Homo sapiens: one gene and its partner. The protein of the gene in region 2 binds, or shares a complex with, the protein of the main gene of each other region. Each region holds a gene or a part of one and is shown on either strand. Other genes may lie near its edges.

Evidence for each region. Proteins that work in one complex are often made in the same cells at the same time.
Region 1: NCAPG (region 2) and SMC2 share a complex: the UniProt entries of both Homo sapiens proteins name them as parts of the condensin complex.

The regions. Positions count from the first base shown.
Region 1 is NC_000009.12:104,111,305-104,118,333, reverse strand, and holds part of SMC2 (structural maintenance of chromosomes protein 2), read right to left. Parts: intron 6,754-7,029; coding exon 6,520-6,753; intron 5,019-6,519; coding exon 4,859-5,018; intron 4,371-4,858; coding exon 4,253-4,370; intron 3,644-4,252; coding exon 3,505-3,643; intron 2,135-3,504; coding exon 2,015-2,134; intron 164-2,014; coding exon 1-163. UniProt on the Homo sapiens protein: Central component of the condensin complex, a complex required for conversion of interphase chromatin into mitotic-like condense chromosomes.
Region 2 is NC_000004.12:17,820,973-17,828,001, forward strand, and holds part of NCAPG (condensin complex subunit 3), read left to right. Parts: intron 1-2,010; coding exon 2,011-2,151; intron 2,152-2,674; coding exon 2,675-2,798; intron 2,799-3,995; coding exon 3,996-4,085; intron 4,086-4,409; coding exon 4,410-4,589; coding exon of another isoform or gene 4,590-4,595; intron 4,596-7,029. UniProt on the Homo sapiens protein: Regulatory subunit of the condensin complex, a complex required for conversion of interphase chromatin into mitotic-like condense chromosomes.

The DNA of each region.
Region 1 (7,029 bases), on a different chromosome or scaffold from region 2:
GAGTTACAGTTCTAGTCATTATCCTCTTATCAAAGGCCACTTTTTTGGCATTATCCATATTGTCACAAACAAATGTTGTTCCAAAGACAAACTCCATTGCTTTCTGAAGTTCTGGTTTATATTCAACCAAGGAAAGAGCCACATGAACGTTGTCAGGGCCAACCTGTGGGACAACAACAGATATGCCACAGTACATACTACTACTTTTCCTTTCAGATATGATTTTATAAACCAGTAAAAACTGCTGTAATAGAAACTTAAATAATACTTACCTAGCATTAAAACTCTTTCTGAATTTTCTAAAAAGCTATGTAAAACTCAAAGTTTCAGGAAAAAAAAACTGCAGGTTTAAATACTGAAAGATTTATTGCTAAGTAAAATATTTATTAATAGCTAGTATGGAGCATTATGAAAGTTTCTATCAATAAGGAGCCATTACCATGTTTCTAAGTGTCCTTCACCAACGTTGACTGGACACAACTTTAATTATAGTACAGATTGAGTATCCTTTATCCTAAATGCTTAGAACAGAAGTGTTTGTTTTCAGATTTTGGTATATTTGTATTACAGTGGTTGAACTTTCTAAATCCAAAATACTCCAATGAGCATTTTTTGGGTGTCATAGTTTTGAATTTTGGAAAATTTCAGTTGTTGGACTTGGAGTGCTTAACCTATAATTTCCAGATCAACACAACTATATGAAAATGTTGTTTCAATAATCAGGAATTTGATTTCACAACAAATATTTTCTCATACAAATGAAACATGCTAGAGCAGTCGTCTGCCAGTTACAGAAATGAAAACACAATAACTGAGAGTAAAAGTAATTTAAAAAATCCCCAGTCCTCTATTTTGATCACAATGCTTCTTCTCAGCCTTTGTTTATAGAGGCTACCTCTGCCCATCATTTAAGAAAAACTAAGCATCTCTTTTAGAGCTTAGTATCAGCAGTGGCAGTCACAATGAAGGAAGCTCTATGTAACACATGTTCAGTATTGTTCTTTGATGTGGCAGCTACCATCAAATAGGTTTGGCTAAAGGATTTGAGGCAAAGTATTTTTGCTGTTACTTGAAATCCCAATTTCCTTCTAATGCTGGGACTCGATGTATGGCTGAATTAACTTCCTGAGCCTTCTTGACTTAATGGTGAGTTTTCAAGTAAAGAAAGTACCAACCAAAAACATCACCTTTCAATTACTCAGCACTCATCCTCCCTCTCCTGATAGTATACATATCAACACAACTGTATTTTGAAATCATTTGCATTGAAATCTTCTGAATGTAACTAAGGATACAACAACATCCACTTAGTTACAAGTATATTTTTAAGTTTCATAGAAATGTCTTTTCAACTGATGTACTTGGAATGTCTGATCAATAAAAAAACTGATATTACAGCTGAATGTTATGACTGACTTCATGTTTTTACAGTATTACACAACTACAATAACTTTTAAATGTATTTCCTTGTACTAATCTATTTTCTTACTAGCAAGCATGTCACTTTAGATCAACGTCAGCAGTTGAATGGGATCCTGGTCACCTGCTATGTACCTGCACAGGCTGAATAGCAATCTAGAAGAACTCTAATAAAGAAGCATCACTGCAATACTAATGAAGGCCTTCCATAATGGCTGTGACTGTGGGCAGTTTTAGTATGCCTGACATAAAAAGAAACAAAAACAAAAACTTGAAGAATTTGGGGTACGTATCTAGAAGCTCAGTTCTAACCATTCAGGAATCAAGAGTGTAATTTTCACCATCACCTGATTGATAGTCATGTGACTTAAGGTTAAAAAGGACATTCTAATACCACAAAGTGAAGCATCAAAAGGAGTTCAAGTCTTCCAACATCTCTATTCTCTTATCATCTAATTGCACAAGCCAACCCAATTTTTTTGTATTTTAATTTTGTGGTTCTGCATATGATTATGTCCCTCAAAATTAATGTCTTCTAACTTAAAAAAACCACAGATGACGATTAAACATATAAATAAGACAAAATGAGACTTACAAGATTCTGAGCAACTCTCAGAGTTTCTGGTGCAATACATCTGGCTGAAATTTTATTGAGTGGAATTATAGTGTATCGACGTTTCAGTTCCCCCCTTTCTAGTAGCTTTTTACCAGTAACCTACAACACACATTTGAATTTAAAAAACGCATGTTAAAAATGACAGAAAATTGAGAGAATGCAAGTTTAGTAGTCTATAATAAATGAATGTTTAGTGCCATTTATCCCAATCAAGTTATAATTACATATGCAATGGAACATCATTTGAACTTGAAAAAGGAGATGCTGCCATTTGGGACAACATGAATAAACCCAGAGGACATGATGCTAAGTGACATAATCAGACGAAGAAAAAATAAAAAACTGTATGACCTCACTTGTACATGGAATCTTTTAAAAAAAAAAGCTGAACAAATAAAAAGAGTAGGATAGTGGTTATCAGGGATGAGGAGTGAAAGAAAATGGGTAGAAGTAGGTCATAGGTCAAAGGGTACATATTTGCAGTTGGGTAGGATAAATAAATCTACCTATTCAGAGATGTAATGTATAGCATGAGGACTATAATTAATACTATATACTGAAAATTTGCTAAGAGTAAATTTTAGGTGCTGTCACACACAAAAAAGGTAACTATGGAAGGTGAATGGCTATGTTAATATGTCTGACTACAATAATCATTTCACTATGTATATGTATCAAAACATCTTGTACGTTTGTTTTTTTCTTTTTTTTTTTGAGATACAGTCTTCCTCTGTTGCCCAGGCAGGAGCGCAGTGGTGCAATCTCAGCTTACCGCAGCTTACCGCAACCTCCACTTCCCAAGTTCAAGCAATTCTTGTGCCTCAGCCTCCAGAGTCGCTAGGACTCCAGGCGCACGCCACTACGCCTGGGTAACTTTTGTATTTTCAGTAGAGATGGGGTTTTGCCACGTTGCTGAGGCTGGTCTCGAGCTCCTGGGCTCAAATGATCTGCCCACCTCAGCCTCCCAAAGTGCTGGGATTACAGGTGTGAGCCACCATACCCAGGCTTCTTGTACATTTTAAATATATATATAAAATAAATTAAAAAAAAAACAAGGAAGTAAATTTGACAATGACTACGTAGCATTTACAGGAAAGAATATGAGCATTCTACAGAAGGATAATAAGTGAGAACTGAAGAAATGTAAATAAATTCAATGTTACCTTGATGGGAAGACTGACATCAAAAACAGGTCATTTATTCCCAGATTATTTTACAAATTAAATTCAACTTATACAGCAAAGAGATCCCAAAAGTTTAAGATTGGTAATATGCATTCTGAGTTTCTGAGTAAGCATGAGACCTCCTTTGGAATAGTTATCAAAAAGTTATGAACCAAATAGTTTTACCCTATAAATAAGTCACCTTAGGGGAGAGCCTTAAAACATCAAAGTATTTAATTCTTTTAGCAGCACATGACTTTTCAAGCTAACCAAATTTTAAATTTTTTAAAATTAAAATCAACTTACTTCTGTGTCTACTACAACATTGTAGAGTCGTTCTCCAGCCACTAATTCTAAAGCTGTGGTTGCAGAAGTGTCTTTCACACTAATCAGAGAAGCCACAAGTCCTTTCACACAATTTCTATTCCAGTTCTTCTCTGGATCCCTGAAATACAAAAGTTGACAAAAATTAATCTTAGATAATAAAGTAGAAAAAGTTATACTTTACTCATCAGGAGCTCTTTTGGACAACACATTAAAGTGAAATGAAAGTAGAATCAGCAAAATGGTTTTAACAAACCAAAAATTTTAAAATGTCCCAAATGACTAGCCAGCTGTTGTTTTTAAATCACAATAGATCTTTCAGTATGTTTCAATGTAGTAAGAACAACTCTGATGTTCTAATCCCTATAATACATATGATTACTGTAAATATTCCATAAAAAACCCACATAGCAAAACAAATTATAAGATGTAAATGTGGATATTTAACATTAATGATACAGTAACTCTGAAGACATTTTGAACTGAGATTAAATTTCCCTCATTTTAAGATTAGTGGCATCATTAGCCATTAAATTTCACAAGAATTTCCCTGCCAACATTTAAAACATTTCAACAAATGTTTAAAGGAAAAATACCAATGAAAGAAAAGCAGCTTACAACAAGTTTCATACAAAAATCTTGGTTTCGACAAAATTTTCACACTGCTTCCAGCTTAAATAAAAATGTCTTGATTATTACTATGTTAAAATTCAAGGCTTAAGTCTCTTACTTGTATGCAAATCGAAGATTGGGAAATCTGGCTAATAGAGCTTCATATGTTTCTTTCAATCTACCAATATCACGAGACAGCTGCCTGCGCTTTTCCAAAAGGCTTTCCTCTTTATTTTCTGAAGGATAAATCATAATAAATTAAAACCAAGTTTTAAAAGCTCACTCTACTGTTTTAAGGAAAATATTAGCAACCACTATTTCCAAAGCATGCAAAAAATACAAATTTCTGTAAGTATTAAAAAAGCATGCTGAACCTTCCTATTTCTATCCACTGTCAAACAGACATTATTTCCAACGGCAAATAACACAATTTTCATTCCAAAAAATAACATACAAACTGAATGCCTAATGTAGAAATACACAAATGACATTTTTGAGCTTTCAAATGATTGAAGCAGGAAATTCTCAATACTGAGTTCTCAAAAATTCAAGAGTTGTTTTATAATTAGGTATTTTTTGACGATATTTACAACACTTCTTATACTAATGCTTGTTAATAGGCTAAGAAATGTTTCCTACTTGCTTGCGTTCTTTATTTAAATTAGCTTTTTATCAAAAATCACTACCTCCTCATGATCTGATTATCATGTTTTTAAAGGCAAACCTTCATAATTTAGCTTTTTCATTTCAGCTTCAAGTTTTTCTTTAAGTCTTTTTACAGCTTCTAGAGCTTCTTGATCCTTCCTGTAGCCACTATCCATCTTCTTAACTTCAGCTTGTTTATTCTTTAATTCCTGTTGAGCATGCTTCAACTTCATCTGAGCCTGTGGCAGAAAAATGCAACAGACCATAGGATGTATGAGGCAGACAGTGCTAGTAATTAAATGGCCGAAGATTCAGATTGGTTTTACTAAGAGACCTTAACCTTCAAAGTTTAATTGTTTGGTCTCTTGGATTAGTATTTCAACAAATTAGTCATTTCCCAGTATTTTCTCCTCAAAAAACTACTCAAAGTATAAACTAATATATGATTAATATGTAAAAGAATTTGAAATTTAAGTCCGTATTTTTAATAAAATATGACATATTCAAATTGAAGGATTATATCGAATAACTGTCAGTAGCTGGTAATTAAAAAAAGAACGCTAGAAATCACAACTCTCGTTCTTTTCCTTTCCGCTTAGTTGTTCATATTTGTATGTGTATATATTTGTGAGTGCTATCTAATAACAGTAAAGAAACTGAATTGAGCAATAAGACGTAAGATTATACAGGAAAAGAAGCTAAACTGACAGAGAAACTTAAATGCTGAGTCTGATAATTAAATGCTAGAACTATTTAAATTACATGTGTCAGGCCTTCAAGAATTTATACACTTGAACACTGCTTCTTAAAACTATGAACTAGTATTCTAAAACCTAGATGGGGTTTTAGATGGGGGTATCCTCCAAAACTGTATAATGATGTATTTTTCCCAGTTCCCTTATAAAATAATAGACAAACTGAGAGTAGAGTACTTTAAAGCTTTTCTACTATTGAGAGTTCTTATAAATTTGTGACTATCATCTGTCATGCCTGAATGAAAAAGTTGCAAATATATAAAGAGAAAAACCTGAGGATTAACGCATAATCACACACATTTGTGTACATGTTTTAAAATCTGTGTCTTCCATTAAAAACAAAACAATGATGTGCCTGTGTACATGTATTTTTTCTGCTAGCAAAATTCTTATGTTCATAGGACTGTAAGTTGCACTACTATGTAAAATCTGAGAAACATTATAATAGACTGACAAGACTTTTAAGATTATGAAATCAGAGTAGGGAGAGCAGACTAGAATGTGGCTACATGTGAGGTAGAGATACTTCCTAAAAAAATGTAAAGTTTGAGAAACAAGGTTTTAAGAACTAGGTATGGCAGGCAAAGCAATGGGGAGGACAATCCTGTTTTCCTGTTAAAGCTTAAGACTTCAACATTATGTTATCAATAAAAAATAAAAATAGCCAAAAAGAGACAAGAATAAATGCATTAATCTCGAAAATTCCACACAATGCTGCAAACAGAACAAAGCATTTATTGCACTTACATACCGAATTAAGATAATTTATGTAGTACAGCATCTTCACAAATTAACATCACCAATATTTAGCAATCAACATATTTGAATTTCGCTGCATTAGGCATTAGAGTTGCAGAATAAAGTAAACAAACAAGTTCCTTGAGACTGATTATTTTCAACATTATGTAACAATTGCCAAAGCATAACATGAAAAGAAACTTCTTGGAAAAAAAAGCAATCACATAGTGCTAATGTCTCTATTTACCTGTTTGGCTTCTGTCTGAGCTTTACTTATATCATTTTTACAGGCCATCATTTGACCAGCAAGAGTTGCTTCTGCTCCATCTTCATTACTGGACAGGCCAGCGGAAACAGCATTGAAGTGCTGCTGTGCAGCTGCCAGAGCTTCAGCATCTTTATTACTTGCTTCTTGAAGGGCATGCAGTCCATCTGTTATCTTTTTAACCTCTTTTTCCTTTGCTGCTAAAGTTTTTGAGTCCTTTAGGAAGAGTTTCAAATGGAAAAATATTATATTTCAGGAAAAACACCCACTTTCTTATACGCATACCCTTATGTAATAAAATTCCATAGCAATTTGGAGTGAGCATAATAAAATAATTTAACCATCATAACTTTATAAATACTGAATTATCATTTTGAAATTCACTCTCAGTTTTTAGAATAAATATAACTCTTATACTACTGGTTCATTCCATGTTATAAATTAAATCCATGAGACATTGGGCTAAATAATAATTGCAGATTTAAACAAATC
Region 2 (7,029 bases):
CTTTCTTGAGTGGTCTCTTCATTATAATAAATGTCTTTATAAATGGTTAGGATTTCATGGTAACTAAAATTGGTGGGTCAGTTTTAAGTTGTATTTATGCAGTTGAGGATTTTTAATCTATTAATTAAACAACTGTTTGAATTTACTTAAAAAAAAAAACTCAGTCAAGATGCTGTGCATTTTGCTAAAGCTGGGCTGGAGAAGTGGGGAGAGATACAAAGATGAGTATAAATGAAGGTTTTCTTTTAGCCTGTCAGAAAAGAGTAACTCTACTGATTGGTTGATTTTGATAGTTATCGGTAGTGTAGTTTTCCTTAGTTTCCTACTAGAACCCAAAGGGTGGCTGATGTCTTAAAAGTCCTAATCTTGTGGCCAGAAATTTATGAGCTTTTATTTACTCTTGGTCATCACTTTGTAATACATGAGAGTATACTCATTATACATTATACCACAATTTCTGTAACTTGGTTTTTGTCACCCCCGCCTTTTTTTTTTTTTTTTTTTTTTAAGAGACGTAGTCTTGCTTTGTTGCCCAGGCTGGAGTGCAGTAGCGTGATCTTGGCTTACTGCAGCCTCTGCCTCCCAGGTTCAAGCAATTCTCCTGCCTCAGCCTCCTGAGTAGCTGGGATTATAGGTGCCTGCCACCACATTTGGCTGGTTTTTATATTTTTAGTAGAGATGGGGTTTTACCATGTTGGTTAGGCTCTTCTTGAACTCCTGATGTCAAGTGATCCTCCCGCCTCAACCCCCCGAAGTGGTTGGGATTACAGGTGTGAGCCACTGTGCCCGGCGACATTTTTGACATTTTTTAAATGACATTTTTGATCAGGATTGTTTTTCATGTTACTTCCATCTTAAAGGCACTTCGCTGTCTAAGCTTCAATTCTTAGTTCTGCTTTTAAGTAGCTTTTTTTATTCCACACAAAAAGCAGAGGCTACTGAATATACAGCCTTCTTGGTGAGGATTATAAAGGGCTTTAGTTTGGGTGGTGATGTCTGTAGTAAGAATAAAAAGTTAAAATAAAAGGTAGCTGATGGTGGTGGTGTATACAGAGATTAGTAGGGTTTCTAAGAAAGAATAATAAAAATTTGTGAAATTGTTTCTATTTTTCTGATTTTTTTCAAAAAAGATAATTGTATTCATGGATTACTTGTGTAACTATTGTTACAATTTTTAAAAATAAAAGAATGATAATTAGGCATGATGAAGATTAAATCTTTTTTTTTTTTTTTTTTTTTGAGATGGAGTTTTTCTCTGTCACCCAGGCTAGAGTGCAGTGGTGCGATCTCGGCTCACTGCAACCCCTGCCTCCTGGATTCAAGCAATTCTTCTGCCTCAGCCTCCTGAGTAGCTGGGATTACAGTAGCCACCATGCCTGGCTAATTTTTTTGTACTTTTAGTAGAGACAGGTTTTCACCATCTTGGCCAGGCTGGTCTCGAACTCCTGACCTTGTGGTGCACCTGCCTCGGCCTCCCAAAGTGTTGGGATTACAGGTGTGAGCCACTGTGCCCGGCTGAAGATTAGATCTTTATGACTAATTGGATTTTTGGGTAAGGGATTCAGAACTTGATAGATGCTTCTTGACTTAAAGTGGGGCTATGTCATAAGTCAAATGAGTTTAATTCTCAGATAAACTCATCCTAAAGTTGAAAAATTGTAAGTTGGGCCACCTGTAATTGGGGACCATCTGTAATTGGGAGAATGCTAGTGACATTGAAATAATTAGTTATCAGTTAGACATAAATATGTACCTTTTGAAAATTTCCCATAGAAAATTTGAGTCATTATTGAAAATACATTTTCAAATTCTTTTGATTCATCAATAAGTTTGTTTGCAAAAGTTAATGACAGTGGCATAGAATTGAGTTTGTAGACCAAATTACATGGCATAGATATGTATTTAGACGAATATGACCTGAAAATGGCCCTTTTCTGACCTAATGGTGGGAATCAACTCTTGTTTGATGTTTCTTAAAAGATTCTACTTTATTAATTCTGCTTGTTTTAGTTACATCCAGAGCATTCCAGTTGTTAATGAAGAACACAGAGGTGATTTTTCCTATATTGGAAATTTGATGACAAAAGAATTCATAGGTCAACAATTGATTCTAATTATTAAGTCTTTGGATACCAGTGAAGAAGGAGGAAGGTATGTCTAAATGTTAACACTCATTCTAATTTGCCCTTCTAATTTCTTATATTGAAATATAGTCCTTTTACAATATAACTAAACATATTTACCCTAGCTCTCTAAAGTGGTATAAAAAGTTTTCTTTTCCCTTCTACATATTTCCATATATACACATACATTTATATTTCTAGTTCAATTTCCTCAGAATAAATCAATGAAATTGCAGTTTTTGGTTAAAAGTTTCTGTTTAGATTTATTAAGGCTAGTAGCATTTTCTAAAAGGTTTAATCATTTCTGGTATTTTGTCATTTTATCATGTTGATTTATTAAAAATCATAGGGTGTTTTATAAAAATTTTTTTTTGTGTGGAATAAGAATATTTGACCTAAAGTCTGTACATACAGATTTTTGTACCTATTATAGTGATAAACCTAAGTGAAAGAACTGAGGCAAATGTAATTAAGTTTGCAGAGTAGGTGAATGTTAGAGATAAAACATGTTTTGTCATAATAATATTTAAATTAGTTCTTTTTGACTGCAGAAAAAAACTGCTGGCTGTTTTACAGGAGATTCTTATTTTACCCACAATCCCAATATCCCTGGTTTCTTTTCTTGTTGAAAGACTACTCCACATCATTATAGATGATAATAAGAGAACACAAATTGTAAGTAATTTTCCTCATTGTTGATAAAGAGGTTTTGGTCAATGACATTGAATACTGTCTTATTTTCTGTTTAGAACTTTTTGTTTTGTCTGTTTTGTTTTAGGTTCGTCTCTTTAATGAGTTTTAAAATTTCTTAAAACCATTATCTATCTCTTACATACACAGAATATTTGAAAAATGTCACCTTCTTCCTCTTAGTGTACCTGTTATTGTTGAATCAGTTTGAAATGGAGCAGGTTTGGTAGGAAGTTACAAGTGGGGATATGGTTTTGTCCATGAGGCACTGGGTGCTAGTGTTTTTGAGAGCTTACTCAAATTGTACATACTAGGGTTTAGAATCTCATCTGACACTTTCTGGCTTTGTGGCTTTGGACAAGTTATTCTGCTGTTTTACTTGTCTGCAAATAAGAATAGCAATGAAATCTACCTTTCATTTTTCAATGAGGTATTGTTCATAAAGGTATTGTTCTGTATTGCTTGATAAATACAGAAATAATTGTTTACTATAATACTATTTCAGTGTTATTTTTTTCTGGCATAGCCAAAAAAGACAGATCTGTATCATTTATTTCATAAAAATCACATAATTTCAGTTGCAGGTTAATTCACAGATCATCTCTTCCATCCTCTCCTTATATATACACCCCTTCTACAACATGCTTAGTTGTTATTCAGCATCTGCTTAAATACTTTCATTTGGGAGGCAGCCTTTTCCTGATCAGCCAATTCCAATATACAAGTGGTTCTGAAAGGAAAGTCCTTCCTTATGCTATTATTATTTATGCATTGTCTACCCAAAGGAAGAATAAAAGGATATTCCATTTTTCTGTGTTTAACTCCTACAGAGCTGAACAAGAGAAGGGTTGAGGATTTTAGGCAGAGAATTTAAGTGTCTCATCTTAAGCACCATAATTCATATTTCTGTTTTTCAAACATTATATGAGGGATAATTTACTTTCACTGTCTGTGTGCCTATTTCCCTTCCATTCAAATAATTTCATTTTGTAGTCAGATATATTGTTTTGTTTTGTTTTTTTCTAAAATTGTCTAGCAAACAGAATGTGTGCTATTTCTACCAGTATGTTTTTGCTCCATTATTCAATATATGGTGGATACTACTTGGAGTTTTATATAGAATTTTGATACTATTTGCTGATATATCAAACATATATTAAAGCATGTACTCTGAACTTACAGGTTACAGAAATTATCTCAGAGATTCGGGCGCCCATTGTTACTGTTGGTGTTAATAACGATCCAGCTGATGTAAGAAAGAAAGAACTCAAGGTAAGTCTCTTTTAAATGAAAGAAGTGCTTGAGTGTAATGTAGCTGGGCAAGTCTATTCTTTCCTCTTGCTGTGCAGTTCTGAAATGTTTCTCACATAATCAAATTATTGTTTAATTGTTAAACTATAAGAATATTTAAAATGTTACCACATATGTCAGTCTCAGAGATATGCAGATCTCTGTGTCAGGAAAACTACAAGTTTGCATATGCCTGACTCATTAAATTCTGGGCAGTTGAGATATTAAATAATACTCCTGAGTTGCTACAGATATTCATATTAACAGTTTTTGTTCAGTGTTGAAACAATTTATATCTTCCCTTAGATGGCTGAAATAAAAGTTAAGCTTATCGAAGCCAAAGAAGCTTTGGAAAATTGCATTACCTTACAGGATTTTAATCGGGCATCAGAATTAAAAGAAGAAATAAAAGCATTAGAAGATGCCAGAATAAACCTTTTGAAAGAGACAGAGCAACTTGAAATTAAAGAAGTCCACATAGAGAAGGTACAGGTAACTTTTTTCATACTAAATCTCAGGTGTTATTAATCATCTCAACTAAATCTTATTTTCTCTAACTTCTAGAATTGCCAAAATATATTTACTTTGAGCACTTTGTAATAGTGACATGAATTAAAATGAAAAAAGTTTTTCCCTGTTTCTATTTTTGGACTTTGAAAGGCCTTAATTAACTTTAATTATTGGAGGTAGGACTTTATTTGCTTCCTTGTCATGCTAATCTCTAGAATCCGAAGTCTTTCTTACCAGGGAAGCTAGCTTTCCAGTGGTTCACATCTGAGTTTTCTGTTTTTTGTCTTGAATGGTTTAAAAAAGGAAAATACATCCATTTTCCTCTTATTTGTGGAGGATCAATGACCTTTCTTTTTTATTGCTAGCAAAATAATTTCTATGGTAACGTGCATTTTTTTAAAGCTAAATTACTTTTGTGTTTTTAGAAAAAGCTACGCAGCTTTGTTATTTTTAATGAAATACTGAAATATGTCTAGTAACATTTAAAGCTTGCTTTTCAGTAGTTCGTTTTTTAAAAAATTAGTTTGTTAAAGTACTCTCTTAAATGGAGTATGTCTTTCCTTCTGAAAGAAATTTTTTGTTAATGGTATCGATACCATTCTGTCTTACAACAAATGATAAATATGTAAACATAAGATAGGTATCAATTAATATTTGATATTAACTTTAATTTCTTTTGGGATCTTGCCTTTTGTAATGAACATCATTTATTGTTGTACTTTTGGGATGTGCTGATTATTCTCATAAAAAGAATGCTAAATAGGAGACTCTTTTATATAGGAGAGTTTCATGAGTTATGTTTCTGATCTCTTTAGCCATAGACATCCCAACTCCAACACCCACCTTCCCAGAGTGTATGCCTGAATTTTATTTTGATAGCTGGTGGCTTCTTTTATTTGACGAAGTCTGTGGGCCATTATAGGCTATTAAATTTGGAAAGCAAATTTAAAGCAAAAACTGAAAATATCATCTGAAAAATGACAAACTTTAGGTCAAAATTATAAAATTAGCAAAAGTAGTCTATCATGGTTAATATCGTCTGTTTAACTTGACTTGCTTTGACCATTTATGTGTCTATTTGTCCTGTTCGAGGGCTACAAATCTGTTAAAATGCAACTACAACAGAGCATAATAAATGCTATGGTCAGGGAAGTATAGAGGTTTTATGGAGAGGTTTCTAGTGCTGGTAGAGTATTGTTGGCTTCCCCAGAGGAAGACATGTTTTATCCTGAGATTAGAATAAAAATAACAATATAATCTAACAGTCAGAGGATACTTTTTCTGTGGTAGTCACAGCATTAATTACTTCACAAATGTGAATTCATTCTTTTCTTCCTATAGGCCTATGAGGTTGGTACTATTATTATCTTCATTTTACAAAGGGCAAGTAACTTGCCCAAAATCACACAGATAGTAAATGGTGGAGGCAGGATTTAAACCCAAGAAGTGGCTCTAGACTTGTGCTTTTAACTCACTCTGTGCTGTCTCTCCTCAATGAATTATGGAAGGAATGTTGTAGACAGATGGAGCAACATCTGTGATGGTCCAGAAGTTAAAGAATGCCTATTATGTTTTAAAACTTCAGGTCCATGTGACTAGAGAATTGATGGGGAGAAGCAGGAGAAAAATCTGGGGAAAAATTAAGGGCTAGGTCATGTAAGGCTTTGCGTAAGCAATATTAAAAATTTTGTATTCTAAGGATTGTGGTGAACCACTAGTATTTTAAGTGGTTAGGTAAGTCTTATGTCTCAGATCACTGTTGTTTAGGAAATGGATTGGAGAGTAGTAAAAGCTTAGACAGGCATAATAGTTGGGAGACTTACAGTAGGGTTGGGAGACTTACAGATGATGGTAGTCTGAACAAGATAATGACAGTGGATTTGGAAAGTAGTGATGAACTTGAGAGGTATTTAGAAATTAGTAACGGAGAAAAGGGAGTCAGGAATGTATCTTAAGTCTTTTGGTTTAGACAACTGGGTAGATGGTGATGACAGTATGAAGATAGAGAACAAGGAAGAGGAGAGATTTGTGTAATGATGAGTTCCCTTTTGGACATGTTGAGTTTGAGGAAACTGTGGAACATCAAGAGGAAATGTCTTTTAGCAGTTATATATATGAATCTGAAACTTAGAAAATAGCTGGGCTAGCTCATAGATGATAAACGAGGTTGTCAGGTTTTTTTTTTTTTGAGGTGATAATTAGGCAAGATGAAGATTAGACTTTTTTTTTTTTTTTTTTGAGACAACGTCTCCCTCTGTTGCCCAGGCTGGAGTGCAGTGGCATGATCTCAGCTCACTGCAACCTCCACCTCCCGTGTTCAAGCCATTCTCGTGCCTCGGCCTCCCAAGTAGCTGGGACCACAGGTGTGCACCACCACACTAATTTTTGTGTTTTTAGTAGAGATGAAGTTTTGCCA